4 separate regions of the Homo sapiens genome follow, and all the other regions are linked to region 1. The links come from fine-mapping of genetic effects on gene expression. A gene starts in region 1. Each other region holds a variant in brackets. All regions are shown on one strand. Distances are between the middles of the regions. Region 1 holds the start of GLYATL2 (glycine-N-acyltransferase like 2). Region 2 has its middle 48 kb from the start of CNTF. Region 3 has its middle 37 kb from the start of GLYATL2. Region 4 has its middle 32 kb from the start of GLYATL1.

What was found. PIP is the estimated chance that this variant, and not a neighbour inherited with it, causes the effect. A credible set is the group of variants that fine-mapping cannot tell apart.
Region 2: its variant is the best candidate, but not a certain one, in a credible set for the expression of GLYATL2 in whole blood (TOPMed, PIP 0.89).
Region 3: its variant is the best candidate, but not a certain one, in a credible set for the expression of GLYATL2 in whole blood (INTERVAL, PIP 0.52).
Region 4: its variant is the best candidate, but not a certain one, in a credible set for the expression of GLYATL2 in prefrontal cortex (BrainSeq, PIP 0.85).

What each region holds. Positions count from the first base shown.
Region 1 is chr11:58,840,286-58,848,194 of GRCh38, reverse strand. GLYATL2 (glycine-N-acyltransferase like 2) reads left to right here and starts at 3,491. Exons shown (of 6, transcript NM_145016.4): 1 at 3,491-3,761.
Region 2 is chr11:58,666,646-58,674,554 of GRCh38, reverse strand. No RefSeq gene overlaps it. Among named protein-coding and RNA genes, the nearest start is that of CNTF, 48 kb to the right of the region's middle. The variant C/T (reference allele first, on the strand shown) is at 3,566.
Region 3 is chr11:58,804,084-58,811,992 of GRCh38, reverse strand. No RefSeq gene overlaps it. Among named protein-coding and RNA genes, the nearest start is that of GLYATL2, 37 kb to the left of the region's middle. The variant A/G (reference allele first, on the strand shown) is at 4,550.
Region 4 is chr11:58,903,241-58,911,149 of GRCh38, reverse strand. It overlaps a transcript of GLYATL2 not described here and a transcript of GLYATL1 not described here. Among named protein-coding and RNA genes, the nearest start is that of GLYATL1, 32 kb to the left of the region's middle. RefSeq lists an enhancer at 5,267-5,766. The variant C/T (reference allele first, on the strand shown) is at 4,266.

The DNA of each region.
Region 1 (7,909 bases):
AGATGTAGGTATCATGATTTAAGCTGTCTCTACTTCAGAGAGCATCCCAAGCCCAGTAATACTGTGGTTTTTGAAGACTCATAAAGGTACCGCCTCAATAGTCTTGGAGAAGATATGGGAGAATTCTCTGGATTACCAGGCAGAGACTGTTCTGTTTTCTTCCCTTACTTTCTCAAAAAAAAAAAAAAAAAAAAAAAGCCTCTCTCTCTGTTCTGAGCCAACTAAAATTGGGGGTGGAGTGACATAAGCACTCCTGTGGCCACCGCCATTATGACTGTGCTAGATCAGGCCTGAGGTCCGCACAGCACTGCATCTTGACCAAGGCCTGCTGTAATCACTCCTTGGCTACTGCCTATGTTCACTTAAGGCTCTGGAACTCTACAATCAGAAGGTAGCAAAGCCAGCAAGGCCTGTGTGCTTCCCATCAGGGCAGTGAGATTCCTCAGGCCCTGAGATACAGATGTGCTGTCCAGAAGTCAAGGACTAGAGTCAAAAACATTAGAGGGCTACCTGGTGTTCTATTATATTGCAGTTGAGCTGAGGTTCAAACCACAAGATGAAGTTCTTCCCACTTTTGCCTTTTCTTTCCAAAGACAGAGGAGTCTCACCACATAGTCACCCCTACCCACTGGTTGCCAGACTACCAACCAGTGTTCTCTTAAGGCCTAAGGGCTCTTAAATCAGCTTGTAGTAAAGTCTACCTGGCCTGGGACTCACCTTTCCGGGCAGTGGGCTTCCTTCTGGCCCAGGGAAGGTCCAGAAATGCTGTTCAAGAGCTAAGTCCTGCAATTGGGGATGTCAAGAGCCCACTTGCTGCTCTACCATGCTGTGGCTGTGCTGGCACCTAAGGTGCAAAACAAAGTCTCTTTACTTCTCCTTCCACATTTCTGAAGCAGAAGGAATCTTGCCCCAGAGCTGCCACAGCTGGAAATGTGCTGAGTCTCACCTGAAACCTGCTATCCTCAGATGCTCACGCAAGGTCCTCAATGTACTAATAGTACATGGGTACTGCTGTAGGTTATTCAGGGCTCAGGGTATCTTCTACCAGGTGATGAATGCTGTGAGGACTGGATCCTTTTTTTCAATGCAGAGAGTTCCCTTCCAGCCCAGCAAATGTCTAGAAATGTTGTCTGGGAGCTGGGGCCTGGAACGGGGGCCTCACAACTCTATTTGGTGCCTTATCCTGTTGTGGCTGAGCTGATATCCAAGATGCAAGATGAAGTTCGCCTTACTGTTTCTTTTTCATTCCTCAAGCAGAGGGAAGGAGTCTCTTTAGCAGCTGTGAGCTATGCAGCCTGGGGTTAGGGAAGAGGTGATACCAGCTCTCCTTTGACTGACCCAGCTGGTGTCTCAGTATGTCAAGTGTCCCCCCAGTCCACAATTTCTGAGCCTAATTCAGCACTAGGACTCACTTAAGAGTTGCAGTCCTTATGGTTTACACTGCCTTTCACGTTTACTTGGAAACACAGAGAACTTTAGGCCCTCTGTGGTGAGGTTTTCAGTCACTGAAGTTTTGACTGCTGGGATTGGTGATTCCCCTCGGGTTAGGACTGGTTTAAATGCTCCCTCTGCCTCCATGGGCAGGTGTCAGCTGAGTTTGGTCTAGTTTTCCTTTGTGTCTAACATGACAGCAATGAGTTCAATGCCTCATAATTGCTGTGTTCTTTCTACCCCCGTGCCCAGAGATATACTGTGCACCACACTACTGCTACTGAGGTTGGGAGGGATGGGGATTGGTGATTCAAGACTGTTTTTTACTGTCTCTTCAGTGCCTCTTTCAGGGATATGAAGTCAAAACCAGGTACTATGAGTGCTCACTTGATTTTTGGCTCTCATGAAGGTATTTTTTTCTGTGTAGTTGTTAAGTTGGTGCCTTGTGGGGTATGGGGAAATGATTAGTGGAGCCTTCTATTCTGCCACTTGCTTTGCTTCTCCTCCCCATTATAAACTATATAAAAAAAATTTAATGGCTCAAGAAATTACTTAAGTAATACTCAGTATAGAAAAAAAATATGTGTTCTCTCAACTATCCACAGTTTGCTGTCAATTATGGAATAAAACATATGTATTGACTAGTTGAAATGGACCATTTTTTAAAAAGGATGATTAGTTTACTGTATAACTCTATAAACTTTGATATGTATTTAACAAAATAATCGTTTACAATTATGAATATGTAAAATTCTTTGATAGATTATGTGAACCACTTTTGGTTCAAAAAGTAGAGTAACTAAAACTATAAAACTCAATGCCTTACATAGCAAGAATGTGTAGATAGTATTAAATTATCACTGATAATTTTTATATGTCATCTGGAGTAGATGATTTAGGTTTGTAAGAAGATATAAACTGCCTAAGGGTAGAGAATCACTCTCTATGGAATCATAGTGTCATTAAAATAATTCGATATTTGGCCTCATGTTCCAGACATTGCCACTGGTTAGTTTTGTGACCTGGGGGAAGACATTTATTTTTTTCTCAGCAACAGCTTCCTTATTTGTGTAAAAATAACTCTTGCTTTTCTCATGCTATAAATGATTACAATTTGTGAAGTTTCTTTCACTTCCAGAAAGTGGGTGAATTTTTTTTTAATTAGAGATAGTATCTCACCCTGTTCCCCAGGCTGAAGTGCAGTGGTGAAATAGCTTACTGCGATCTCAAGTTTCTGGGCTCACGTAATCTTTCCATCTCAGTCTGCTGAGTAGTTGGGACTATAGACACATGCCACTACATCTGGCTAATTAAAAACCAAAATTTTAAAGACTGGGGTTTTATTAGGTCGCCCTGGCTTGTATCAAGTTTTTGCCCTCAAGCGACCCTCCTGCCTGAGCTTCCCAAGTAGTTGGTATTACCGATGTGAGCCACTGCACCCAGTATAAAAATTTTATAACTTATATTTTCCCATGTTTTAATCTCAATGTCTTCAAAATGTAATGTTGATCAGATTCTTTTAGATAGCTTTTTATAACATACAGATTGCCAGGCACTCTGGGAGCCTCTGATTTACCTGATCTGGAAAAGTTCTTGTATTGTTAACAAACAAGCCTAATTGATCTTGAAGGAGGTGGTGTGAGGAACACACTTTGAAAAACAATGTTTGTCTCTATTCCACTACAAAGCTAATTCCAGTCCCCCTGAAACTTTTCTCCAGTAATTGATTTTTCTTCTTAAACTTACAATGCCCCTCCCTGTTGCTCCACTTTAGACAACCAGAGGACAAGGTATATGAAACTGAGTTCTCATTATTACAGTAACTTCCTTGAGGCATTTTTGGCTTTTTCCAAGCCACAAATGGTTGAAAGTATTAAGCCAAGTATTTTGCATTGAAATCAAACTTTCCAACTCTTTGTTTGCTCTACTGACATCATTTAAATAAGGCTGCAGCTGTGCTATTTTTGCCAACAATGGAAAATTGACTTAATATTGTTCTAGAATAGCCTTTCAGCTACAAGAGGTTATATATAAATCAAAAGCTTCTTGAGTAAAACTTCTTAGAATTGTAGAAGCTGCTCAATATGGAACATATTCTCAGTCCTCCTCTGGTCTACAAAGCCTGTGATTTCTTGTCTATGGACAGAACGTCTGGTTTAATCTACAGGAACCCATAACTTCCTGAAGCTTTATGCTTAACAGTGACAACGTGAGTCAGTTGAATTTTATTGTGTTTCAGTCCGTAGAGTATTAGCTACAGAAACCTTTCCATTGCCATACTGAGAAACTGCAGCAGGCAGTGTGCCTACAGGTCTACAAAGAAACTTCAGGTAAGCAGAATTATTTAGAACAGCCTTTTTATCTTGGCAGTTCAATTAATTTGGATTCTTGTTCTAAATCATTTGTATTTGTTAATTTATTTCTTTTCCCCTGCAAACCCTTGGAAAGAGCACTCCCCAGGGTCTCAATGTTGAGAATGAATTCTTCAAAACCTTTTAGGTACCTGAAACTGGAAATACTTCAGAAAAAGCCAGTGCGTATCCTTTTGAATTTGTAAAATGTCCAAATGCTTTCCTTGAATTATAAGTTATCAATATGCTTGTACCTTTCTCTGACACCCTCTAGATCTCCATAGTAATACTGTTAGCAGAAAAAAAAAATCAATATTCTCCTTGCCTCCAATCCTGCTTCTAAAGTATTAGTGGTTTATTTGCATAGAAAAATCTTCCTTCTTCCTTCTGTGTCATGTGGCTAGAATAAAACAATGCTTTTCTGTTGCCCTCTGCCAAATTTCTCTCCATTCATTGAAACATTTGGCAACTGGTATCCTAATGTTTCTCTCCAACAAACTTCTGCTACATCCTATTCATGTCTGTGGTACCTGAAACTCCCATTCCCTTCTTGGCTCCTACTCTGTTGACTTGGAGTTGAAGCCAACAGCCCTACATCCCAAACTGATCTACCTCTGAGTGCCTCTGACATCTTAACCTCTAATAGTCTAATATCTGATCCCAATCTCCTATTTTTAAGTACATTTTTCCCTGTCTATTAACATTGCTATTCTTTGACTTCATCAAGTACTTTCTTCCATGGCTTTTTCTATATTTTCTTACTTTATTGGTCTCCAACCTACTTTACTTTTTCTCTTCTCTCTCCTGGATGCTACAGTTTGTAAGTTTCAATCTCTCATTTCTATATATTCAAATGCTTTGTACCTTATCTTTTTTGCTACACCAGCCCTGAAAAAACCAACCTTGGTTTGTTTTAATTTGTCTTCTCTGCTTCTACTCTCAGGGAGCTGAGCTCAATATATTGTTGAGTAACACTTCCAAATCATAGTGTCCATCTTTACATTATCCTAAGCATGCTTGCTAGTCCTTGCTAATTCTAGTCCACTCTTTCTCCCATTAACATCAAAAGCCATTTAAACCCTAACTGTTTCCCATAAAATCCTACTTCTTTTTCTCGACACTTTCTTGGCATACTCCCTCACCCACTTACTGCTAAAAAGTGATTTTGGAAATAGGAAAAAATTTTACCTCTTCCAGGAAACAGACATTCAAAAATAACTTGCCAACTCTCTGCTCTTTTTTTCTAACCCTGTGTACTCCCATATAAAATTAGTCCTCACTTAACATTGTCAATAGGTTCTTGGAAACTGCAATTTCAAATGAAACAACATATAACAAAATTAATTTTACCATAAGCTAATTAGTATAAAGAAGAGTTAAGTTCCTACAGCATATTTCTGGTCACAAAAACATCACCAAACTTATAAATAAAGAACCCAAACACTTCTAATATAAAACAATGAACTAAATGGAAACTGCGTATACATTTAATAAATATTAATAAAAACAAGATAATTATTTACCTAATTTTTGGTGAGTCTGTGTGATGGTGGTCACAGTAGTGGTGGGTTAAATTGAGAAATAAATGTTTGCAAAGCAAAAGTTGTAAGGAGCACCTCTTGCCTCTATGAAGTTAAAATTCAATCACAAATATGGTGGCCTCACTGAGTCCTTTGGCACAGCATTGTTTATTGTCATTCATTTGTATGATTATCATAGACTTCATGAATTTTTGTTTTATTATGAATGTTTCATTCATTCATTCATTCATTCATTCATTTTTCAACTGGCTTTTTCCAGTTCAGGGGAGCAAGTGACTGAAGCCTGTCCTGGTAGCTCAGAGCACAAGGCAGGAACCCACCCCAGACTGGACACCTTTCCATCACAGGGCGCACACACACACACACACACACACACACACACACACACACACACAGAGTCTCACTCATCCTGGGACAATTTAGACAGAGAAAATCCATGCAGACATGAGGAGAACAGGCAAACTGCACATAGACAGTAGTCCAGCCAGGAATTGATGTTTTTCTCTTCACCATTGTAATGAAAAGATATTGAACAAAATGACATTATTTGATGACCTGCTGTATACGTACATACATACACCTGCATCTGCATCCATCCTAATTTTTTTTCTGACTTTTCACTGAAAGAAGTATTCTTCCAGTCCAAAACTTAATTTCACAAGTATGCTGAGAATTATCATTGACGATTACATGAATTAATCAACATAAAGAAGCTGAAATAGGGTTGGCATTTTGTATATAAGGTCAATGAATTTCTGTCACCTTTCTATGTCCTGTTTACACATTGGCCTATTAATGACTTACATCTTACCTCTTGTAGTTAGTATAGGTATGCTTAACTCTCATCTAATAAGAGAAATGCCTTTTTTGAGCTCTTGTACCTCTCCTCTGTCCTTCGATATTCTCATGTTCTTCTTCCTTTCCTGGTCAAGCTCTTTGAAAAAGTTACCTTCACTTCCTCACGTTTCATTCCACATCTCTTACCAAGTCAGTAATCAACTCCTAACTCCAAAATGCACTGCCATCTTTAGTACTCATATCTTTTAGCTTCTCAGCAGCCTTTGACTGCTTTGGTCGCTCTTTCCTTGAAGTTGATTGCTCTCCTTTGTGGAATATGCTACCAAAGCCTGCAGAATGGGCAGAATGCTGTGCCATTTGGTTAGTGCACCCATCATCCTAGACAGTGACAGAAACACATTAGCTTTTTCTAGATCTGTGGTTTGCCTCAAAATATCTATTTTGTGTCAATAGATTTATTCAAGCAAGTTACATGTAGTCCATCTTTGAAGTTGCAGTTTTCTTCATTTATGTTTCTGTCCGGTGGAATGGTCACCTTCACTGGATTAGAGGTCTTTAAAATGTCCTTCAGAACCTTGTATATACACAAATTACCACCATGCTAAACACTTCACATACCTTTTCTGGCAATGAAATCCTCATGACAACCTACAAAGTAGATATTACTATCCCCATTTTATAGATAATGCAACTGAGGCAGAGACTCAAATAATTTGACTTACCTAAGGTGACCCAGATAGCCAGAGGAGGAGCCAGGGGTGGAGTTTTGGTTTGTTTAATTCCAAAGCCCATGTTGTTAACCACTGTGCTTCCTTTTGTATTGATTATGGCTATACACTTACATATATACATGCATACATAGATGTCATATTTACTGAGTTTTCTAGGATTGCAAAAAATATTAATGGCTTCCTTGCAAACCATCAAAATAGTGTAGAAAATTTTCTATTTGTTGGTTCTTGGAAAATATGGCCATTCTTATATATTGTCTTCAAGTATCATATGAGGTATTACATATTTATATATATTGTCAGCCGTGTATATGGCTGGAAGAAAGTTCAAAAGTTCATATTTATATCTTATTTATATACTACTTTGTTTCAGAAAGACTTTCAGGTGGGTATATGCAAATGTACATATACACAGATAACCATTCACCTATGCATCTTTATATTATTATTTTTTTAATTTTTATTTTATTTTATTTTATTTTATTTTATTTTATTTTATTTTTTGAGATAGAGTCTCACACTGTCACCCAGGCTGGAATGCAGTGGTGCGATATCAGATCACTGCAACCTCCTCTTCCTTGGTTCAAGCAATTCTCCTGCCTCAGCCTCCTGAGTAGCTGGGACTACTGACACTCACCACCACACCCAGGTAGTTTTTTGTATTTTTAGAAGAGACGGGGTTTCACTATGTTGGCCAGGCTGATCTCAAACTCCTGACCTTGTGATCTGCCCGCCTTGGCCTCCCAAAGTGCTGGGATTACAGGCTGAGCCACTGCACCTGGCCTGCATCTTTATATTATTAATTGGGATTACATCATATGTTTTCCTGACTTTGTAACACAGACGTTTTCCTATGTCATTAAACACTCTTCAAAGACATCATTTTGATAGTTGCCTGGTAATCTATTATTTGGATACACCATCATTAACTTGATCATTTCTTCATAATGAATTTTGTATTATATCTTATATACAGTATATTATAATAAATTTTCTTATGTTTACATCCTTAAACATATCTATTATTATTTCCTTGGGATGAGTTTCAGGATGTGGA
Region 2 (7,909 bases), 170 kb after region 1:
AGTCCATCTCGTCTTCTGTTGGGGTATATTTTAACTTAGCTAATAAGTGTTGCTTTTTATTAAAACTCAACTACTGGGAAACTGTGACCTCAGGACACTGTGGCCAGAACACTTGTGAATGAGAGAATGACAAGTGGGAGGTCCAACCTGTTCAAGGAAGAGTTCTCAAAGTGGGCACTGCAACAAAAACCAAGTCCATTCCTTAAAGGTGACTTCCTTGTTCCACAGGCATCTCTAATTGTAATAGATTTAAATGTTAAGTCTCCACCCCAAGGTGAACGTGGGACACGTGTATCATGAATGTGTGCTTATCATGCATACATGCAACCCTCCCTTTGCAAGGATTGCAAACACACAGAGAATGATAATGAGGTTTTTGATACTGAATTACTCAAGTGGGGAGGGGAAAGTGCCTGAAAATTATAGTTTGGGGTCACTATTCCCATCTTGTGCCTACTAAGGTTTCCGGTATATAATTACTCAATATTTATTAAGTGAAGAAATGAATTAGTCAAAATGCAGTGAAAAGTAAAATTATTTTAGTTTCATGAATTTTTTAAATTTTTCTATACAATTTATATATTTTGCAGATATGACAGTTACCTAGGGAATGTGGGAACTTTCTATAATATGCATGTTATATAAAGATTTTCTGGCCAGGTGCAGTGGCTCATGGACGTAATCCCAACACTTTGGGAGGCTAAGGTGGGTGGATCACTTGAGGTCAGGAGTTTGAGACCAGCTGGCCAATGTGGTGAAACCCTGTCTCTACTAAAAAATACAAAATTTAGCTGGGCATGGTGGTGCACTCCTGTGATCCCAGGTACTCAGGAAGCTAAGGCAAGAAAATCGCTTGAACCCGGAAGGTAGAGGTTGCAGTGAGCCAAGATTGTGCCACTGCACTCCAGCCTGGGCAACAGAGCTAGACTCCATCTAAAAAAAAAAAAATCTGTAATTAAAAAGAAATTAGAAACCAAAGCTGAATGAAAATCTTGAAATTATGAAAAAGCAAAATAAAACTACAATGCAATTACCTTTTTTTTCTCTCTTTTTAGATTGGTAAAGTGTGAATACATTTGAGGGCATCTGCTATAAAGGAGAGTATGGAGAAATGGGCACTCCTCTAGGTTATTGCCAGGAATGCATGTTTGTACAGCCTTTGAGGGAAGGCAGTTTTAGAAGCCCTGTTTTCATGGGGAGAACTTTCGCTGAAGAGAAATGAAGCTTTTTAGATCAAGGACATTTCATCTGTGTCCACAGACTGCCTGGGCATTCGTTTAAATTCAAGGGCTCTCTAAAGTTGAAGAGAAGAAAAATCGTATCTTTATTTTTATTAACTTCCAACCATAATTTAGGATTTTCTTCAATTATAAATGTATGTACCAAACTACCAGAGATTTCCATTATCCCTGACTTCATCAAGATGGTAGTGAGAAAATTTCATATCTGATTATAGCTGAGAATAACTGAACTACCATTTACTCTTATAATATTGAAAGTATTTAATTTATGATTGTATAATGAACTCATTAAATATGAGACTTTGCAGCTAGATGCAGCTAGATATGATGTAATTAATTTAAGATATTCAGATAACTATATGTCAATATAATTTTGTTTCCTTCATATTCCTTGTGTTTTATTTCCCCCATTCATGACTCGTGATCCTGAGAATGGGGTAATAGGCCTCCCCAGACTGTCAAGCGGCCCACTGCACAAAAGCATTTAAAAGTTATGCTTTAGATGAAGAGGGGCTCAGTGGGCTACTGATGACCAGAGTTTAATTATACAGAGAAAGTCTAAGGAAGGAAAAATCTTAGCCATGGCGGGAGGTGAAGAGAAGAAAACCCAATGCAATCCTCCCACTAGATTTTTTTGTTTTTTAAGTAATTTGGAAGTCACAAATTTTGTTTTGAATTTAATTAGCACTGTTAGCTTAAAAATCACAAGTTTAGAAACTTAGAAAGGAGAGCTTTATTTCTTAAGGAATTTACAACCTGCAGGCAGGGAGCACAGCCTCTGGCTGAAATACCAAAAGCAAGCACTTCCAGGGAGAGAGGGATAAGACAGGAATCAATGCTGACTGGGTAGGCCGAGTATACATATTCAACAGGATACAGGGGGAGCTATAAATATTAACGAAAGTGAGTTGCATGCATACAAGGTAAGCAAACGTACATGATACATGCATCCCATGTTCACCTCGGGGTGGAGACTTAACATTTAAATCTATTACAATTAGGCCCTATTATTCAGAAGGTGAAGCAGGGACTGGAAGGTGCTAAAATGCACAGCCTCTGCAAGACCAGCCAGAACCAGCCTACGGGGTCAGTGGTGTCTTATCAGAAAAAAGCTATGGAAATCAGTCACTTGTTCAATCAAAGCTGTGGTTATGCAGGGTCAGTTTGTCGGCTTCTGGCATGAAGGAGCTACAATTGTTTCCATATTGCTTATCTTGAGGCCAGTGCTTGTTCAGCTGCTAGAGAAAAGGAAAAACCTTGTGACAGTTAGAACATAGATTTTTGTTTGTTTGGTTTTTTGTTTTTGTTTTGTTTTGTTTTGTTTTGTTTTGTTTTTAAGACGGAGTCTTACTCTGTTGCCCAGGCTGGAGTGCAGTGGCGCAATCTCGGCTCACTGCAACCTCTACGTCCCCAGTTCGAGCAATTCTCCTGCCTCAGCTTCCCAGTAGCTGGGATTACAGGCGCCCGCCACCACAACCAGCTAATTTTTGTATTTTTAGTAGAAACGGGGTTTCACTATGTTGGCCAGACTGGTGTTGAACTCCTGACCTCAGGTGATCTGCCTGCCTCGGCCTCCCAGAGTGCTGGGATTACAGGCATGAGCCACTATGCCTGGCCCATAGTTTATTCTTTAAGTGTAGGAGTGCTTGACTTCACCTTTGCCTGATATGTCCTTAGGTCCTGTTTATAATTTTGTATCTAATTGCCACAAAGAGTTTGTTTTGTCAGTCTTATGATCTCTATTTTAACATAAATGTTGATGGTTATTGTGTCTAAACCAGAAAAGGGAGCCCATAGAATGAGGTGTGCCTGACCTCTTGTCCCTGTCATGGCCAGGAACTCAAGTTTTTTTAAGGTTTCTCTGGGGTCCCCTTGCCAAGAAGGGGTCCATTCAGTTGGGTGGGGGGCTTAGCATTATATTTTTAATTCTTAGCTAATTTTTCAGCAATATGCTTATGGCTGTATTTCTCTAATTAACAAAAGAAAATAAGAGTATCTATGCACACTCCCACATGTAAAATAACAAACCCAGCAAAGTTTAGACCAATTTAATGTCAATCATTTTTTCCAATAACTGCAGTATGAGATTTTTGAACCCAGATTATTCCTGAAATTTTACTTTTACGTATCATTTTTGTCAATAATTACTTTTTGTCTTTCATTCTATTTTATCATATTTGAAACACGAAATTAAGCTTAATTCTCTATTTTATTGGTTTTAATATTTATCTCCTTAATAGTTTACCAACTCTTGATTTCTTTATTTTGATTCACTTCTCATTACACTGGAACATAACATTACTCAATTTTTCAGTTAGGGTGCA[C/T]GGGTGATACACTTCCTGAATGTATACACCTGTAGGAAAGTCTTTGTGCAGACATCACACACGAACAGCAGCTTGGCTTGTAGCAATATTTTATATTGCATCCTTTTGAGGCAGGAGAATAGGGTCTGGAGGTAGGTAACCTAAGGCCGTTTCACGCTGACTTCCTAGAGCTAAATTGAAAGGAAAATCCTACCTGTCCACACCTAAGAAACAAAAGCACCAGAGGCTACTCCCTTTGCAAACCGCCACATTTTCTGCACTGCAAATTGGAAATTGAAAGTACCTCTGACTGGTTGCAAAAAGCAGAGAGGGGAAGGGGGGTGATATTACTCCCCATATCGCTGGGGGTGTCCAACCCCCCGTGATATGGTTCGTAATATCCAGGGGGTAGAGGGAGGTGATATTACTCCCCATATCGCGGGGGATGTCCACCTGCCTGTGATATGGTTCATAATATCCAGGGGGGACAGGGGGGTGATATTACTCCCCATATCGCGAGCGGTGTCTAACCCCCTGTGATATGGTTCGTAATATCCAGTGGGGGAGAGAGGAGGGTGATACTACTCCCCATATCGTGGGGGATGTCCACCCCCCTGTGATATGATTCATAATATCCAGCAGGGGAGAGGAGGGTGACATTACTCCCCATATTGCGGGCGGTGTCCACCTCCCTGTGATATGGTTCGTAATATCCAAGGGAGATATTACTCCAAATATCACATTGGATATACACCCTGTGATAATATTTGTAATATTTAGGGAGATATTACTTCTAATATCACTGTGGGTGTACACCTTGTGTGTACACACTGTGATATTGTTTGTAATGTACTAGGAAGATATTACTCTTAATATCACTGTGGGTGTACACCCTGTGATATTAGAAGTAATAGTCTAGAGAGATATTACTCCTAATGTCACAGTAAGTGTACACTTTGTGATATTATTCATAATTCCCTAGGGGAATGTTACAGCTAATGTCACAGTGGGTGTACATACTGTGATATTATTTGCAATATCCTAGGGAATGTTACTTCTAATGTCACAGGGGGTGGTCACCCTGTGATATTAGTCGTAATATCCTAGGTGTATGTTACTCCTATCGCAGGGGGTGTACAATCTGTGATATTTGTCATAATATTTTAGGAGGATGTTACTCCTACTGTCACAGGTGGTGTACACCTGTGATCTTTTTTGTAATATGCTGGGGGAATGTTAATCCTAATGTCACTGGGAGTGCACACCTGTGATATTATTCGTAATATCCTAAGGGGATGTTACTCCTAATGTCAAAATGGGTGTACACTCTGTGATATTATTCGTAATATCCTAAAGAGATGTTACTCCTGATTTTACAAGGGGTGTGCACCCTGTGATATTATTCTTAATATCCTAGGGAGATTTTACTCATAATGTCACATGGGGAGTACACCCTGTGATATTATTCATAATATCCTAGGGGGATGTTACTTTTAATGTCACGGTTGGTGTACACCCTGTGATATTATTCATAATATCTTAGGGGGATGTTACTCCTAATGTCACAGTGAATGTACACCCTCTGTAATATTATTCGTAATATCCTGGAAAGATAGTACTCCTAATTTCACAGAGGGTGTACACCCTGTGATATTATTCATAGTATTCTAGGGAGATAATACTTTTAATGTCACAATAGGTGTACACCCTGTGATATTTTTTGTAATATCCCAGGGGGACGTTACTGCTAATATCACAGTGGGTGTACACTCTGTGATATTATTTGTAATATCCTAGGGAGATATGACTCCTAATATTACTGTGGGTTTATGCCCAGTTATATTATTCATAATATACTAGGAAGATGTTACTCCTAATATCACAGTGGGTGTACACCATGAGGGTACACTTTGTGGTATTATTCATGATATCCTAGGTAAATATTTTTTATACTATCACACTGGATGTACACACTGATAATATTCATAATATCCTAGGGAGCTATTACTTCTAATTTTACAGTGTGTGTACAAACACTGTGATATTTTTTGTAATATCTTAGGGAGATATTAATTTCAATATTATAGTAAGTGTACGCCCTGTGATATTATTTGTAATATCTTTGGGAGATAATACTTTTAATGTCATAGTGGGTGTGCACCCTGTGATATTATTCATAATATCCTAGAGCAATGTTACACCTAATGTCCCAGTGGGAGTACACAATGTGACATTATTTGTAATATCCTAGCCTGATGTTACTTTTAATGTCACAGGCTGTGTTCACCCTGTGATATTATTATTATTTTTTTTTAATTTTTGAGACAGTCTTGCTCTGTCGCCCAGGCTGGCGTGATCTCGGCTCACTGCAAGCTCAGCCTCCCGGGTTCACGCCATTCTCCTGCCTCAGCCTCCCGAGTAGCTAGGACTACAGGTGCCCACCACCACGCCCGCCTAATTTTTTGTATTTTAGTAGAGATGGGGTTTCACTGTGTTAGCCAGGATGGTCTCGATATCCTGACCTCGTGATCCACCCGCCTCGGCCTCCCAAAGTGCTGGGATTACAGGCGTGACCCACCGCACCTGGCCCAATATTATTCTTAATATTCTAAGGATATGTTACTCCTAATGTCACAGTGGGTGTACCCCCTGAGATATTATTTGTAATATCCTAGGGAAATATAACTCCTAATATCACAGTGGGTGTACAACATGTGTATACTCCCTTGATAATATTTGTAATATCCAGGGTAAATATTGTCTCTAGTATCACAGAGGGTGTACACCCTGTGATATTTTTTATAATATTTTAGAGAGGTATTGAGACTAATATCACAGTGGGAGTACACCATAGGTGTACACTTTGTGATATTCTTCCTTATATCTTAGGGAGATATTACTCCTAATATCACAGTGGGGGTATATCCTGTGATATTATAAGTAATGTCCTAGGAAGGTATTACTCCTAATATCCCAGTGGGTGTACATCCTTTGATATTATTCCTAATATCCTAGGGGGATGTTAATCCTAATGTCACAGGGGGTGTACACCCTGTTACATTATTCATAATATTCTAGGGGGATGTCACTTTTAAAGTCACACGGGGTGTGATACATCCCCCTAGGATATTACAAATAATATCACAGTGGGGGTGTACCCTGTGATATTATTCGTAATATCCTAGGGAGATGTTACTCCTAATGTCACAGAGGTGTTCTCCCTGTAATTTTTTTGTAATATACTAGGAAGATGTTACTCCTAATGTCAAAGGGGGTGTGCACAATATACTAGTGGGCTATTACTACTAATGTCACAATGCGTGTACACCTTGTGATATTATTCGTAATATCCTAAGGGGATGTTGCTCCTATTGTCACAGGGGGTTTACTCTCTGTGATATGATTCACAATATCCTAGGGGTATGCTACTCCTACCTCACAAAGTGTGTACACTTTGTTATATTATTCACAATATCCTAGAAAGATGTTACTCCTCGTGTCACAGGGGGTGTACACCCTGTGATATTATTTGTAATATTCTAGGAAGATGTTACTCCTAACGTCACAGAGAGTGTACACCCTGTGAATTTATTCATCATAGCTTTGGGGGATGTTACTCCTAATGTCACACATGTTGTACAAACAGTGATATTATTCATCATATTTTATGGAACTGTTACTCCTAATACCACAGGGGCTGTACACCCTGTAATATTATTTGTAATATCCTAAAGAAATGTTACCACTGATATCACAGGGGGTGTACACCATGTGATATTATTTCCAATATTGTAGAGGGATGTTACTCCTAGTGTCACTCTGTGATATTGTAGCTTATATCTTAAGGAGATATTACTCCTAATATCACAGTGTTTGTACCCCCTGTGATATTATTCATAATATCCTAGAAATATGATACTCTTAATATTACAGAGGATGTATACCCAGTGATATTATTAGTAATACCCTAGGGGGATGTTACTCCTACTGTCACAGGGGTGTACACCCTGTGATATTGTACATGTCACACATGTTGTACAAACAGTGATATTATTCATAATATTTTATGGAAATGCTACTCCTAATATCCTAAAGAAATGTTATCACTAATGTCACAGGGGTTGTACAACCTGTGATATTATTCCCAATATTGTTACTCCTAATGTCACAGGTATACACACTGTGATAATATTGGTAATATCCTAAATGGATGTTACTTCTAATGTCACAGTGTGTGTACATCCTCTGATATTATTCGTCATATCCTGGGGGAATGTTACTCCTAATGTCACACAGGGTGTTCTCCCTTGATATTATTCATAATATTTTAGGCAGATGTTACTCCTCATGTCACAGGCAATGTAC
Region 3 (7,909 bases), 36 kb after region 1:
GAATTCAGTCAACTGAGAAGAAAAAAACTTGTACTGAAAAAAAGACAAGTTCCTAGAAGAAAAACAAAAATAAAAACTTGAAGGCCTTTTAAATACAAACATACACATATGCACACACACACACCTCTTTTTTTAGGGGAATTTAGCCACTTCAGAGGACTTATTCCCCATAAGTTGGAATTTCCTTCAGATTTGATCAAGTCAGATAGAGTCAATCAAACTTAATGGGAAAAAGACTGGAACAACGACAAGAGCAGAAACAAACAACAACAACGACAACAAAAAGTTAAGCCAAACAAATGATTGCACAACTTATATGACTACTGAGCGCTCTAATGATAAGGAGAAATTAAGACCAGCTTGTTGTTAACTTTAGCCAAGACAAAACCTCAATTTAGCTACTTACCTAAGGATGAGTCTCAGGCTGAAGACAGCTGTCTACCATCCTAGAAGCAGAAAAAAAAAACCTCATCTTCCTTGTCAGAAGTGAGCTCAAACTCCACAAAAGAGTTACCCACCTTCCATCATCATGGAAGTAGAAAAACTTGTCTTTCTTGTTGGAATCAAGTAAAACTCCAATAAAAGAGGGAGTTGTACGGCAAAATAAACTTTAGATCTAAACAAAATTTGAGGAGATTAAGGATTCTCTGAAGGGGGTTCTCTCAGACCTCAGCAAATTGTTCTGTTGGTTTGAGTCATAAAGTTAGCTCATGCTGGTATCTGGCACTGAGAGGAGATTTCTCAAAGTTCAGCGACACCTCCACTCAGAATCCCTTCATAGTTACCAAAATGTGAACCCTGAAAATTTGAGACAGGTCTCAGTTAATTTAGAAATTTTATTTTGCCAAGGATGCACATGTGTAACACAGCTTCAGAAGGACCTGACAACATGTGCCCAAAGTGGTCAGAGCATAGCTTAATTTTATACATTTTAGGGAGACATGAGACATTAATCAACATATGTAAAATAAACATTGATTATGTCTGGAAAGGTGGGACAACTCAAAGTTGGGAGAGAACTTCCAAGTCACAGGTATATGAGACAAATGGTTGCATTCTTTTGAGTTTCTGATGAGTCTCTCCAAAGGAGGCAATCAGATATGCATTTATCTCAGTGACCAGAGGGGTGGCTTTGAATAGAATGGGAGGCAGGTTTGCTCTAAGCAGTTCCCAGCTTGACTTTTCCCTTTTGCTTAATGATTTGAGGGGCCAAAGATATTTTTCTTTATTACCATGATGGGTGCTGGAATCTTGACCATCTCAGGTTACAGAAGCATAGGGTCTCCTCAGTTAAGTAATTTACTCATCCATATTTCTTCTCATTCAATAAATAAGTCCCAAATTCTGGCTAATGCCAGATACTATGATTGATCTTGGGGATGCAAAGATGAACAGAACAGTCCAACAGCTGATGATCTCATAAGGGAGACTGGTGATATAAACAGATGTAATAATTTAATATAGAATACCATTACTGGTTATATACCCAAAGGAAATGTAATTAGTATGTTAAAGAGTTATCTGTACTCCCATGATCATTACAGCATTATTCAAAATAGCAAAGATGTGGAATCAAACTAAGTACCCATCAATGGATGATGTATAAAGAAAATGTGGTATGTTTTGTACACATATAGTACACCGTGGAATACCATATAGCCTTAAAAAGAAGGAAATGCTGTCATTTGAGACAACGTGGATTAACCTGGAGGACATGAAGTTAAGTACAATAAGCCAGGCTCAGAAAGACAAATGCTTCAGGTCCTCACTTGCAGGTGAAATGTTAAAGTTATTAGATGTAGGGGGTAGAATGGTGGCTACCAGAGGCTGCAGGTAGGGACAGCAGAGTGGGGAGATATTGGTAAGAGAAGATAAAGTTTCAGTGCAGCAGAAAAAAACAAGTCATTGACATCCATTTTACATCCTAGCAACTATTGTTAATAATTTATTGTATATTTCAGAATTGCTAAGGGAGTAAATTTCAAATGTTTTTACCACAAAAATAAGTATGTATGGTGATTGATATGTTAACTAGCTTGATTAAATCCATCCACATTTTATATCCTTTCAATGCCAAAAAGACCATTATAACATATATAATGCTATATTATATTATAACATTGCATTTTATACCATAGATACACATAATTATAAACTCAATACAATTTCTTTAAAAATAAGGTACAAAACTACCGAATTGTCATAAAAAATGCACCTTTTGCATGACTCTAGGGTTCTACTAAAATCACACCAGTCCTTGACAAGACTCCTGAGTCCCTGGATGTGAGGTAGGTGAAGAGGGAGGGTTGAGGATGGATGGATGTATCTTAGACCCTTCATATGGACTGTAAAACAATTTTCTTGCAAACCTAGAACCCTAAAGCTGTCAACCTCTGTTTGCTGCCTGGGAGATATTTGAGATGTTTCCAATGGCTGCTGAAGGTATCTGCCATTTCTTCTTTGGTCTTACTTGTGAATGACTGAGAGTCAATCTTGCATTGGTGCAATTAAAACTCACCCATCAATTTCTACAAACACTTTAGGAGACCTGCTATGTGTCTCTGTGTATTTACTTCACAGAAGGTTCACAGATAATACCATCTGACTTACTTGAGAATGGAATATGATAGTGATAATTTATTTCCTTTTTTTCAAAGAGAAGGGGAAAAATTATTAAATATAGAATAAATTAATGGGCTACTAAGGGAAATTTGGCCAAGTGTTTCACAGATCATTTGGCAAAATATCAAAATGAACTTAAGAAAAAGTTTTGGTGATTAATACCCCAAAACTAAATTTCAGCAAAATTAAAAGTACAGAAACCAAATTGTGGGGCACTGGGGAGAGAGTGTGTTAGAACACTCAAGACCTTTGTCTTTTTGGCTTTGAAAGGATATAAAAAGGGCAAAAAATTAAGGAAAGACTTTTGCTGTTGTTGCCTGATATGGTTTGGATCTGTGTCCCTGCCTAAATCTCATGTCAAAATGTAATCTCCAATGTTGGAGGTGGAGCCTGGTGGGAGGTGATCAGATCATGGGAGTGGATTTCCCCATTGGTGCTGTTCTTATGATAGTGAGTGAGACCTCATGAGATCCAGTTGTTTAAAAGTGTGTGCCACATTCCCCCTTTCTGCCTTCTTCCTGCTCTGGCCATGTGAGTGGTTTGCTTTCCCTTTGACTTTCACCATGATTCTAAGTTTCATGAGGCCTCAACAGAAGCCAAGTCAATGCCGGAATCATGCTTTCTGTACAGCCTGTGGAATAGTGAGCCAATTAAATCACTTTTCCTTATAAATTACCCAGTCTCAGGTATTTCTGTGTAGAGGTGTAAGATTGGAATAATATATTGCCTGAGACAGGAATATTTGGGAGTTGAAGAAACAAAGCAAGGAGAGAGAGAGAGAGAGCTCTGAAGGTATGATTATTGTGAAAAAAGTGGAAAAAAATTTCATTTCAGAGATGAAGAAGGAGATGTCTCCTGTAGCCTAGGTGGACACAGGAGTATTGAGACAAGTTATTTAAGTCAGAGTGAGTGGGGGCTCAAGTACACTTGCAAGCTGTGTGGGCTTTGGATAGTCTTTTGTCATTTCTGTTTCTCAAGTTTTTCAAATGTGAAATGAGAATTTTACTCCTTGGGATGTAATTTGGTCTATAAGTTGCTCAGTACATTGCCAAGTACTTAACATGCACCTAGTAAATGGCAGTTATTATTAGTGTAAATATTTTAAATTTATTTAACAAATATATGTTGCACACCTACAATGCAACAGGTAGTGTTTTAGGATCTGAGACTTGGGAGTAGAAGTGTTGTCTTCTTAGACAAAGTTCATTCTCTATAATCTCTTTATGTTGATTTTGCTTGAAATCTTAGCTGTGTGGCTGAAAAAGACAAGAACAGACTTGGATGTATAGATGTAGGAGTGAGAGAGAAGCAACAATTACATCTCCTTACTCTTTGCCCATTCCATACAGGAGATGATAGACAACTTGGACCACTATACCCCATTTATGATATATTCACCAGGACATCTCAAAAACTCCAGAAAATCCTTGATTTTCTCAGGGTCATCAACTGGTACCAAGCCTTCTGTGATGGTTAACTTTATGCATCAACTTGACTGGGCTAAGGTATGCCCAGAGAGCTGGTAAAGATTATTTCTGGGTGTGTCCATAAGCATGTTTCCAGAAGAGATCAGCTTTGGAATCAGTAGACTGAATAAAGAAGAGTCATCCTCACTGATGTAGGTGGGTATCATTCAATCCATTTAGGACAGAAATGATCAAAGAGGCAGAGGCAGAGTGAATTCTCTCTACTTGAGCTGGAACATTTCTCTTCTCCTGCCCTTGGGCATTGGAACTCCTGGTTCTCAGGCCTTTGGAGTCAGACAGAGAATTACACCATTGGCTTCTCTGGTTCTCAGGCCTTCGGACTTGGGCGGAGTTACACCACTGGCTTTTCCTCCAACTTGCAAATAGCATATTATGAAACTTCTCAGTTTCCATAATACTGTGAGCCAGTTCCTATAATCTGTGTGTGTGTGTGTGTGTGT[A/G]TGTGTGTGTGTGTGTGTGTGAGAGAGAGATAGACAGAAACACAAGCACACACACAGAGATTGTGATTGGATTGCCATATAGCACATGGCAATCTACTCACAATCCACAAAAATTTGAACAAATGCTGAGACTGAGATGGAGGAGATTTTTTGTCACCCGTCTTTCCCTAGTTACCTTAAACTTGGAAATTATGTTGGGGTTTTCCAGAAAAGAGAATATATAATTCACACACACATACAAACACACACACACTGAGGAAGGTTAGGCATTAATTCAAAATCCTTCTCTGCCCCCATCCCACACACACTTTCAGCTATTTTATGGATCAAGAGTTTAATTTTAGGATATATGGAAACTTTTAAAGTTCAGCCCCTTATTTCAGATTACTGTAAGTGCTTGCCACTACCTCCTCCAACACACAGCTATTTGTTCTTTGCCTCTCTCCTTGTCTTAATACTCAACACAAAGTATGGGTATAGATGTGTGTATGTGTGTGTGTGAATTATATAATTTGTTTTCTGGAAAACCCTAATATACCTTCTAAATCCTAGGTAACTAGGAAAAGATGGATGAAAAAATCTCCTCTGTCTCAGTCTCAGCCCTTGTTCAAATTTTTGTGGATTGTGAATGGATTGCGTGTGCTCTAGACTATAAAGGCTGACATTATATGGAGGAGTTTAATGTTGAAATAAATCTGCAACAAGTGATATGACATGTATTTTAAAGTGTGTATGTTGTTAGGGCCCCTCAGAAATTATCCCAGTTGCCCATTTCCTTACTACCTCTGCTTTGCACATTGGCCAGGTGAATCCAATATCCAAATGCTCAAACAATTGAGATTATAAGCATTCCAGGAAGAATGTAAAAATGAATAGAGTCCCTGAGTTTATTGTGTCAAATAATGTCTCTTTATAACAATAGAAACCAAATGAATGAAAGAAACAAAATACGCCTTTAAGAATATTTAAAGCTGTAGAAATAGCAGCTGGTGAAAACAGCATAAGGAATGGGGGAAGGGGTACAGGTAAGTCTATTAGTAAGAAACAAACAGCTGCATTATCAATTTATTATAATAGTGTAGTGTTATTAGTTTGCATTCCTACAATATAGTGTATAGGATGATTTGGGTAGCTAGAGAAAATCTGGAGTGTGGGACACTGTGGACCATGATGGAGTGCACTTTAGATAACAAGAAGACAGGGAAAGATTTCTGAGAAAAAAAGCAGAAGAAAGGGACAGGATGGTTTTTTCAGAAATGAAAGGGAACATAACAAAGAAAAGTAAAGTATTTTGAATTTTTGACTAGTGCCAGTCCTCTCAGTTCACTGAACACCTTTCTATCTATACCTATATTCAACTTTGTCTTGAGTATTAAGACAAGGCAAGTGGCAAAGAGCAAATAGCTGTGTGTTGGAGTGGGTGGTGGCAAGCACTTACAGTAATCTGGGACAATTGGGCTGAACTTTATTATTAAACGTTTCTAGATATCCTAAAATTAAACTCTTGGTTTATAAAATAGCTGTAGGTGTGTGTGTGGGGGGGTGTGGACAGAGAAGAGTCTTGAATTAATACCTAACCTGCATTTTTTCCTCATTTTGAGACTCAGTCCAGCAGGGATTAACATCCAGGTTTTGGAATTAGACCTTGCTTTGGATTCTGGCTCTTCTGTTTTAAGTCTGAGTTAATACATCTTAGAATGGACAATAAGAGAATCTTTCTTAGAGTTACAATGATGACTAAAAGAGATAACACATACAAAGTGTTTCTCTCACAGTGCCTATAACATGGTAATGGTCAATAAATGGTACACATTATCGTTTATTGTTATTATCTGTCAGGGTTGTTAGGGGGATTGGGATCAGGTGATAAAGAGGACTTCCACTTTAAAGTTAACGCAGGTGGATATATGAGCGACCTACTTCTTATTAGATGGCAACCAAATCAACTCAGGAATTGAATCCCCCCTCCCTCGCCCCACCACAAACCAAGTTTAGAACCTATTCTGATGTATCCAGCCCAAATGATGGAAAACTGAGAGGTGAGAACAGATCTTGGGTACCTCTGTTTACTGTAAATAGCTTGCTCTGTTTAAAAGAGGTAAAACTGCATGAGGAGGGTGGATTCCTTTGGAGCGTGTTAGGAAGGAAAGAAGTCTGGGCATGGGCAGGTTTGGAATGTTATGACTATGAGTGGCCTATGAGTAACTAGTTTGAGGTATGAGTTGGAGACTACAGCTGACTTTAGATAGAGGCTCATGGAATTGAGCTATGAGAGGGAACTTTTAAGCATATATACAAGATATATGGCAGAATGAGCCAGAAGCCAAATGTTCTAACCTAATCTCTATGTCACCTAGTTATCACATGGGAAGTTTTCTTTGTCGATCAAATCTGGTCATCAAGATGTCTTTGCTGGAGGCCCCCTATGCAAGGGTGGTGAAAAGTAACTGGAAACATGATCGGAATAAATAGAGTTTGAGTTGTGTCTAGTGATGCATTCAGCACTTTTCTACAGAGCACAAAAAGATACCCTGTCTCTTGGTGTGTGATGGAACAGTCTTGAGAAGTGAGTATGGCTTACACCCATCCTAACTTCCACCTCCAGGGCTTCTCAGGGCAGGCCAAAGGGCATAAAATGAAACCTTTCACTGAGCAGGGCACTCTATTTTATGGGGATATCTGGCAGAAGAAAATGAATAAATCTTAAGGATCAGGAAATGCTTGGGTTTCCAAGTTGATCCTTGTGACTGACATCAGTGGAAATGTACCCCAATTCAGGTTGGCCCATTTGGGGACCCCCAAATTATTCTCATTCATTACAGTCAAAGAAAAGAGTATTTATCACAGGACTTCTCTCATACACACCCCTTGCTTTTGTCTGATAAATTAATGAGAAGTATTATATGCAGGTTGAAGCTTGGGAGATATTAAGACACAGCTCTGGATGTTTGAGTTGAGATGGATCTTAAAAACTATCCAGCTCTTTTAATTCTCCAGCATGCAAACAAAATGTAGTGGGACTTCTTGGCCTCCATAATCAAGTGAGTCAATTCCCATAATAAATCTTCTCTGATATATCTACTAGATACATCCTGTTGGTTCTGTTTCTTTAGAGAACACTGACTAATAAAGTGTACATCTGTCAAAATTTACAATATTAAAAAATAAAACTAATAATTCTAAACAGTATGTTTATTAGAAATAAGAATCAACTAATTAAATGTTAACATAAATTACATTTTTTGTGATAGCATAAGATATTTTATGGAAAATAACTCTATTTTCCAAAAAAAACCTAAGGGACAAGAATGGCATTGTTCCATATTTTTAAAATGTTTAACTTCATAGGAGATAGCTGTA
Region 4 (7,909 bases), 63 kb before region 1:
ATGCATGCAACAATACTCATGAATCTTAAATGGAATGTTCTGAGTGAAAGAAGCCATGCTCAAAGGGTATAATTCAGTCTATGTTCCATTTACATGATGTTCTGGAAAAGGCAACACTAGAGTAACGAAGAGATTAGTGGTTGCCAGGGACTGGGGTGAATAGGGGATAAGTGGGGAGCACAGGGAATTATTTAGAGTGATGGAACCACACAAGGAATTAGTAAGGGTGATAAAACTGCTTTGCTTCTTGAATTTGGTCTTGGTTACATGACTGTAGGTGTTTGTCATAAGCCATTGAACTGTATACTCAGAAGACTGAATTTTACTATGAAATAAATAAATGTAAACGAAACAATAAAAGTTAAAGTCTTTCAAATAATCTGTAAGACAATCAATTGGGCATGGGGATTTTTGTGCTCATTTCTATCATCGTTTTTTGTAACTTCTACTGTTTCTAAATTTTTATTCCCTTGCTTTGTTGCCTCCATCATTTTTCCCTCTCATTCTATTTTCTCCACAAACAGTTTGGCAGTTTTACACTCTAGTTCTGTTCTATAAGTGGATGCCGTAGACTAGTACTACCTAATAGCATATCTGCAGTGATGGAAATGTTCTACATCTGTATTGTCTAATACCACAGCCACATGTATTTCTTAAGTATTTGATATGTGATTAGTGCAAATGAGAATTTGTATTATTCACCTTTTTCATTATTTGATTTTAGTTAAGTTTAATTTAAATAATCACATGTGATTATGGCAACTGTCTTGAACAAAATAGCCTAGGCATTTTATCATTAATATTTAACTTAACAAAGTCTAAAGTGAGTTGAAGAACTCCTCCTAAGCAATACAAAGATAAAGTCTGTAAACACGTCTCCTTTATTTACAGAAGAAAATCCAGAAACCTACACATGGAATTCAAAGAAGGAAAAGATACTGCAGCTATTTTCCAGAAAGCTATTCTACCCCTCTCCCACTTTTTAGGAGCCATAATGTATGGAAATAAATTCATGCCAGTTTAAGAATATCTGTAAGTGCCCTCTCAGTCACAGGGTTTTGTGCAGGAATGGGTGAGCTACTTAAGTTGGGACAATTAGATGGCAAGAGAAGTTTCCTTAGAAAACCAGGATAGACTCATTATTGGGAGAATAAAACATCTGATATTACTGCAGCTCTGTTTGCCACTATGCAGGAAGCCAGCCAGGGAATAATATGAAAAGCAGAACATAGAGACCGAACACACAAACAAGCCGTTGAAGAAATTGTATAAAACTGAATTAAGAGCTCTGCTGAATTCTGGAATATCCACTCATGTGAACAAATGAATCCATTTTATTGTTTCATTATTAGAAAATATTTTTACCAGCAATATGGAGAGCTCTTATTGATAGAAAGCCTTCTGAGATCTTGGCACCACACTACCTTACCAGTCTAGAAAGCATTATTTGCCTACTACATTATTGAATTCTCCTTATATACCATCAAATGCAGCTGTCTTATTCGCCAAATATATTTTCACGTGTACATGACTTTATTCAGGCCATTCCTTCATCCTTGATACACAAGTGAAATGTTATTCATTCTTTTAAAAGAATAAATTAGTTTTAGACATACAGAATGCGTAACTAATGTACATAATTAATGTATGCAACTTGATGAGTGTGGAGATACATTATCACCAGAATCTATGACATCAACCTATCTATCACCTCCAAAAGTCTCATCCATTCTGCCCTCATTTATTACTTTTGTAATAAGAACACTTAACATAAGATCTATCATTTTAGCAATAATTTAAGTATACAATATTGTTAACTATAGGCACCATGCTGTACAGATCTTGAGAACTTATTCACCTTGTATAAGGAAACTCTGTACCCCTTGACTAATACCTCTGTTTTCCTCTCTTCCCAGCCCCTGACAACCACTTCTACATCTATGAGTTTGACAATTTTAGATTTATTATTCATTAGGATCTGTCTCATATGACACTGCTTTAATTTCTTAAGTCTGAATTAAGAATTCTTCTCTCTGTACTCTAAAATCACTTGTTTATGTCTCAATTTAGTATTATCATTTTCCATATTTTGAACAAAATAGTGTGGGTCAAAAACCAGCCTCTGCAGTCTGATGGCCTGGGTTCAGATCCTTGCTCTGAAGTTCGTTATTTCTGCAACTATAAGGAAGCTGAGCTTCAGTTTCTTTTTTGGAAAATAAGGATGATAATATTACCTACTGCATAATAATATTAAGTGTTAAATGAGATAATTCAAATGATGGAACACAATTCTAGGCACACAGTGTTTCCTCAGGAAACATTAGCTAATTATTTTTGCCTGTGTGTACTTTCCATGATTTTAAGTGTCCATATTGTTTGTTACTCATCTTGTTGTCTTAAGACATGTTTATCATTGTTAACTCATACCCTATCATTTTGCTTTACACAAGCACTTATGTGTATGAGCTCCCCAAATATATTTTAAACAGCCTAAGATAAGGACTTATAACTATTATTCTTTAGGAATTTATCTCCAAGAATCTGAATTGGCACCACGGTTAGACTATCTCTCCAGTGAGGAGTTGTAAAAAAGTAGATATGCCTTTGAAACTTCAGGTCTAGCCCTCTGGTCATCCTCTGTAGCACTAAATGACTTGTTCCCTTCAGTCTTCATGGAATTCATGATGAGTTCAAAGACAATATAACTAACTTCTACTAGTGGAAAAAATGGAGAACCAAGGATTGAATTTATTCTGCCACCTTAAATGTCTAAAAAAACAAAAAAACAAGATCTATGAAATAACCACTTTCAAACACTGGACATCAGGCTGTGTGGGATCTCATCTCTGATATCTGAGAAGAAAATCATATGCGGTAACCCCTATGGCTATCTAGCTTACTGTATGGCATTTCCAAGGCATATCTCAGGGAGGGGAAACAGGCAGAACCTGGCAGTTTCCCTGAGTTGAGAAGACAAGCTGGGAGTTGTGGGAGGCCAAGATGACTGGAGCCTGTATGGCAGAGTACTAGGATGAAGAGCGCCACAGGAGCACAGAGGATCAGAGATGTGCAGTGGGCAACCCTTGAGATTTCAGCTTGGTCAATGCATGAGTATAATGAAACTGTTGAAAAGGAACAGGAAAAGAACTATCGGAAAGGAGCAGATGTAACAATTTCTGAGGCTCATACAGGACAGAAAATGGTTTCAGTTCCCCAAAATCCGACTAGAAAACTTCATAATTCATGAAGTATCAGGGAGACTACTCAGAAAGTATTGCTTCCATAGTGGGACAACATTAGCCCTTGTTCTGGTCCCACCTAACAAATAAATGCAAGCTTTGAAAGTATGAAATGGTTTCCATGTAAAATAACAACGTACTGGAACAAAGCTCAAGAATATTGATAGGAATGTAAAAATTTTTGGCACCCAAAGTTGTGAAATTAACAAAGCTTGATATCTAGTCAAAAATCAGGAAGTATTTAAAACGTGGAAAAAATATGACCCACAATGACTAGAAACATCAGTGAATAGAGACAGATCCAGAAGTGAGAGAGATGATAGAACTAGTAGTCAGGAACATTAAAAGTCATTACCTTGAATTTCTGGCCAAAATGGAGTAACAGGGACTGGATTTTCCCCTAGCCTGAAAACAAAACAAAACAAAACAAACAAAAAAGAGCGAAATACATGAAATAATGGTTTGCAAGGAACTAGACATCATGCAATTAAAGATGGTGACAACTGAGATGCGTCCTAAATTCCACTCCAGCAGACTACCGTGAGGGATTCCAGGCCAGTGTCGCAAGGAAGGGCAGCAAGACAAAGACAATTGGAAGTCCAGATTTCAGAAGACAAAGCTGAGAGACCAAGGTGACAAGAGATCACAGGCCACAAACCTGGCGGGTGACCTGCAGAGGCAGAGAGAGAGAGACAGAAAACTCAGGATATATGAAGAGGTTTCCCCTAAAGTATTCAACTGTGTACTGATCAGAGCCCCGGCTGAGAAAACTTTCCAAGGCCAGGAAAGAACCACCCTAAAACTATTATGGTGTAACTTTCCTCCAACCCTCTCCCTGTACCTCTGTTAGGGATCCCCATTTCCTCATTTCTAAATTAAGGAGTTTGGCTCAGATCAACCTTTTATTGTTCCTGTGAATTGGCTCCTCTGAGCTTTTTAAAAAAGGATTCCACATCCCACCTTCACAGACTCTGATTCAGTATGTCGGGGTGTAGCTATGGAATCTGCACTTTTACCTGCCTCATC[C/T]CACAACCCCCGCCTCAAATGAGCACCGCGTTGTTTAAACAACCGTCTATGTGGCCACAGAATGACCTCAATGCTTTCCTAAAACTCCAGAACCTATGAAGGTAACCTGTGCTTGCAGCTGTGCTTGCTTACAGAAACAAAGGCTGGATGTCAGTAACCACCGTGCTACAAGATGGGAAAGAGCTCAGCAGCGCTACCCTAACATGAATCTTTGCTAATTACCATACCTAAATCTCTGCCCCGGGGAGAAATGCACCTTGCTAGGCACATGTAGTGCTGTGGTGCAACAGAAAGAATGAGACTGCCACATTCAGGTCTTCCTGGAAAGCCCCACCTCTTTCCAGGAATCCTTGTCCTCAGTCTCCACCTAGGAGTCCTAAAAGACCTTAAAAAGCACCCCCTCACTACACCCCAGGAACTTTGAACAGGAGCTCTCCTGTTCCATTCCCTGATCAGTGAATAAAGTTTCTGCTCTGCTTAACCGAACCTGGTCTCATTCTATGGGTGCAAAGGGCACCAGGGAAGGAAAGGATCCACCAGGGTCAAACGACACTCTTGAGATTCAGGAACACCCAGACGATCTCCATGTATCTTTTCAGGAGTAACACTCTTGGCCTTTGAAGCTGAGAGGCAGGAAGGGAATTACCACAACGGGCGGGGCCCAGCTCCCCATCCAAAACCTCCTTGGTTTTGGGCTGAGATCCTTCTGTCTACTGCCCCTGCCGGCCATCCACCTAACTCCGGGTCCGACCCAGAACCAGAAAAACCACTCAAAGAACCGGCGAGCCTGACCAGACAGTGCACGTGCTAGTGCCCGCTGCTCCCGATTCGCAGGTGTTGGGAAGACTTCTCTCTTGCCTGTCTAAGCTGAACTTTTCCCGCCTGGAAGAGCAGGCTGGCGCGCGGGAGGGAGCCTGGGAATTGACACTCTCGCTGGCCAATGGACGAAGAGTCTCTGGAGGCTGTTTTCTCTCATTGGATGGAAATGATTCATCCTCTCATCCACTTTGGAAGCTAATTCGCATCACTCCAGACAGTGATTGAAGAGAGGAAAAGGGATGAGAGTGCACGCCTGGGCGCACGCGCTCGCGGGCGGGTCAGACGGCCAGGCCGAGGGGACTGCGCGCCCACCCGCCCACCCTCCCTATTTGTCCAGATGACCCATCCCGGTCCCAGCGATCCCCTCCCCCGAACCACTCGGTCCACAGCCAGTTCCCGCGTACCAGGATAAACTAAGCAGTCACTGCCCTGCTTCTTCCTGCTCATCGGCGTCCCCTGTCTCCCAGTGGAAGCCAAGGAGGGGTTGCGCGGCAGCCGGGTGGGTATGGGAGATGCCTGGCGGTTTCGCGCTTTTTCCGCCTTTTGATTGCGAGTGGGAGCAGCGCGCTGAGGAGAGCTGCAAGGGGAATAGCCCGCCAAGGTGCTTCGGTGTGTGGCCATTGCTGCCCTTCTGCCGCTGATGGGTCGGCGGCGGTGGCGGGACGTGCATCCAGGCGGGATCCAGCGGCAGCAGCAGAGAGAGCTCCACCCTGATGATGCAGAGGCCCAGCTTCCAGCTGACTGCAAGTCGCAGAGCAGGCTGCACCCGCGTCTGCGTGAGGTCTAGAGGGACTTGGCCTGCTCCGCAAATGATCCAACTTCGTGGAGGGGCTGGCGAACACAGACAATGCCAGTCTGGACGAGGAAGGGGCCAGCACTGCTTAGGCCTGTTTCCCAGGACGCGCATTACTGGGTGCGGAACTTTACCCCTCAGATGAAGAGTATTTAGGCCTGTTTCCCAGGAGGCGCATTACTGGGTGTGGAACTTTACCCTTCGGATGAAGACTCCAGAGTTGGGTATCTCCAAAGTGATAATCAAGTAAGTGCTTTGCATGGGGCTTGAGAAAACATCTTACTGTTTAAGAACAGAACGTCTTACTGTCTAAGAACATGAATAGAAGGAGATGCCTTCAGTATTGAGTGTTATTTTTGAGAAGTTGGTCAAAGAAGGGGAGAAGATGGTGGATTAATAGATGATGGTGAAAATTATTTTGTAACTCATAGAAGGACAGATGTTTATGTAAAAGTTGATAGTTTTGGTGGAATCATGAGCATGTTTCTGAACTTAATGTAAAATACACAGAGACTCCTGAAATCACTTAAATTACACGGGTCTTGTGGTGTTTGGAAAGAGCAAACTTTAGAAGTGTAATTGTAAAAATAATATCAAACAGAAACAGGGAAGAGAAAAACGTAAAGACAGCTTTCTCAAATCGCTGTTATTCTTGAATCATCTGAAAGCAGTGCACATGACTGGCACTAATATGCATCGGAGAGTAAATCATTGCACAAGGAGACTTGATCTTCTTTTCATTGTAGAATCTGGAGGAAAAAAGCTGTTAAAAGCAAGAGGTGGTAGAGAATAGTATTGTCGAAAGTTTCTGACATCACTGGAGATAGAGAATTTTCCCTGGAAAAAAGTGCTCCTTAGGGAGGAGCATCTGCACATTCCATTAGCATAAAGCACCTGGTCGGCCATATGAAGAAGTCTGGATTTTGTTATAAATATGAAATTTATTTTAAATGGAGGATTTGTAGCAAGGAGTAATATAACCTGACATATTTTTAAAAATCTCTCTGGCAGCTGCGTGGGGGACAAACTCTAGGAGGACAATAGGAGGTGTGGAAGGGAGAAGATGGCTAAGAGTATATCCCAGGATTGCAAAGATGTCGGAGCCCAGCCTCAGACGGTAATGGTGGAGGTGTTAGAAAATGCTGAATTCCACATTTATTTTGAAGGGCGAGCCCATGGAATTGGCTTGTGAATGGGGTTTTCCATAAATAAGAGAAAAAGAGAGCTCAATATGATTCTTGGGCTTTTGACTTGAGCAACTAGAAAGATAAAGTCTGCATTAAGTGATATGGGGAAGTCTGAGGAAGGAGATGCTGTGTGTGCCAGGAGTGATGAGTGTGTCAGTAATTCTACTTTTGATATATTGACTTGGAGATACTAATCCACTCCAACTGAAAAATAAGGAGAGAAGTGGACACTCAACACATGCGGGTGAATGCCCAGAGAGCCTTAAGAAGGGGCAAGAGGCTGAACTTGGGAGAGAAGAGCATAGATCAAAATAAAAGACACACAAAAGGAGAAAGAGAGGGAAACTAGGACTTATGATGGTAATGTTGGCCATTAACTGAGAATTATTTTATTTTATTTTATTTTGTTTTTTGAGACAGAGTCTTGTTTTATTGCCCAGGCTGGAGTGCAGTGTTACAATCTCAGTTCACTGTAAGCTCAACCTCCTGGGTTTAGGTGATTCTCATGCCTCAGCCTCCTGAGCAGCTGGTATTACAAGTGCCTGTCACCACGCCCGGATACTTTTTGTATTTTTAATAGAGATGGAGTTTCACCATGTTGGCAAGTCTGGGGTCGAACTCCTGACCTCAGGTGCTCTGCTTGCCTCAGCCTTCCAATGTGCTGTGGTTACAGATATGAGCCACTGCACCAGGCCTGAGAAATATAATTAAAGTACAGGGAAAATTAAAAGGGAGAAGAAAGTTCACAGAGAGAGATCATGGCAAATGATAAATACAAAATCCTGCCTTGTTTCCCAGATTCCCTGTGTCTTAGGTGCCCTGTATTTTACCTCCCCTTGAACCAC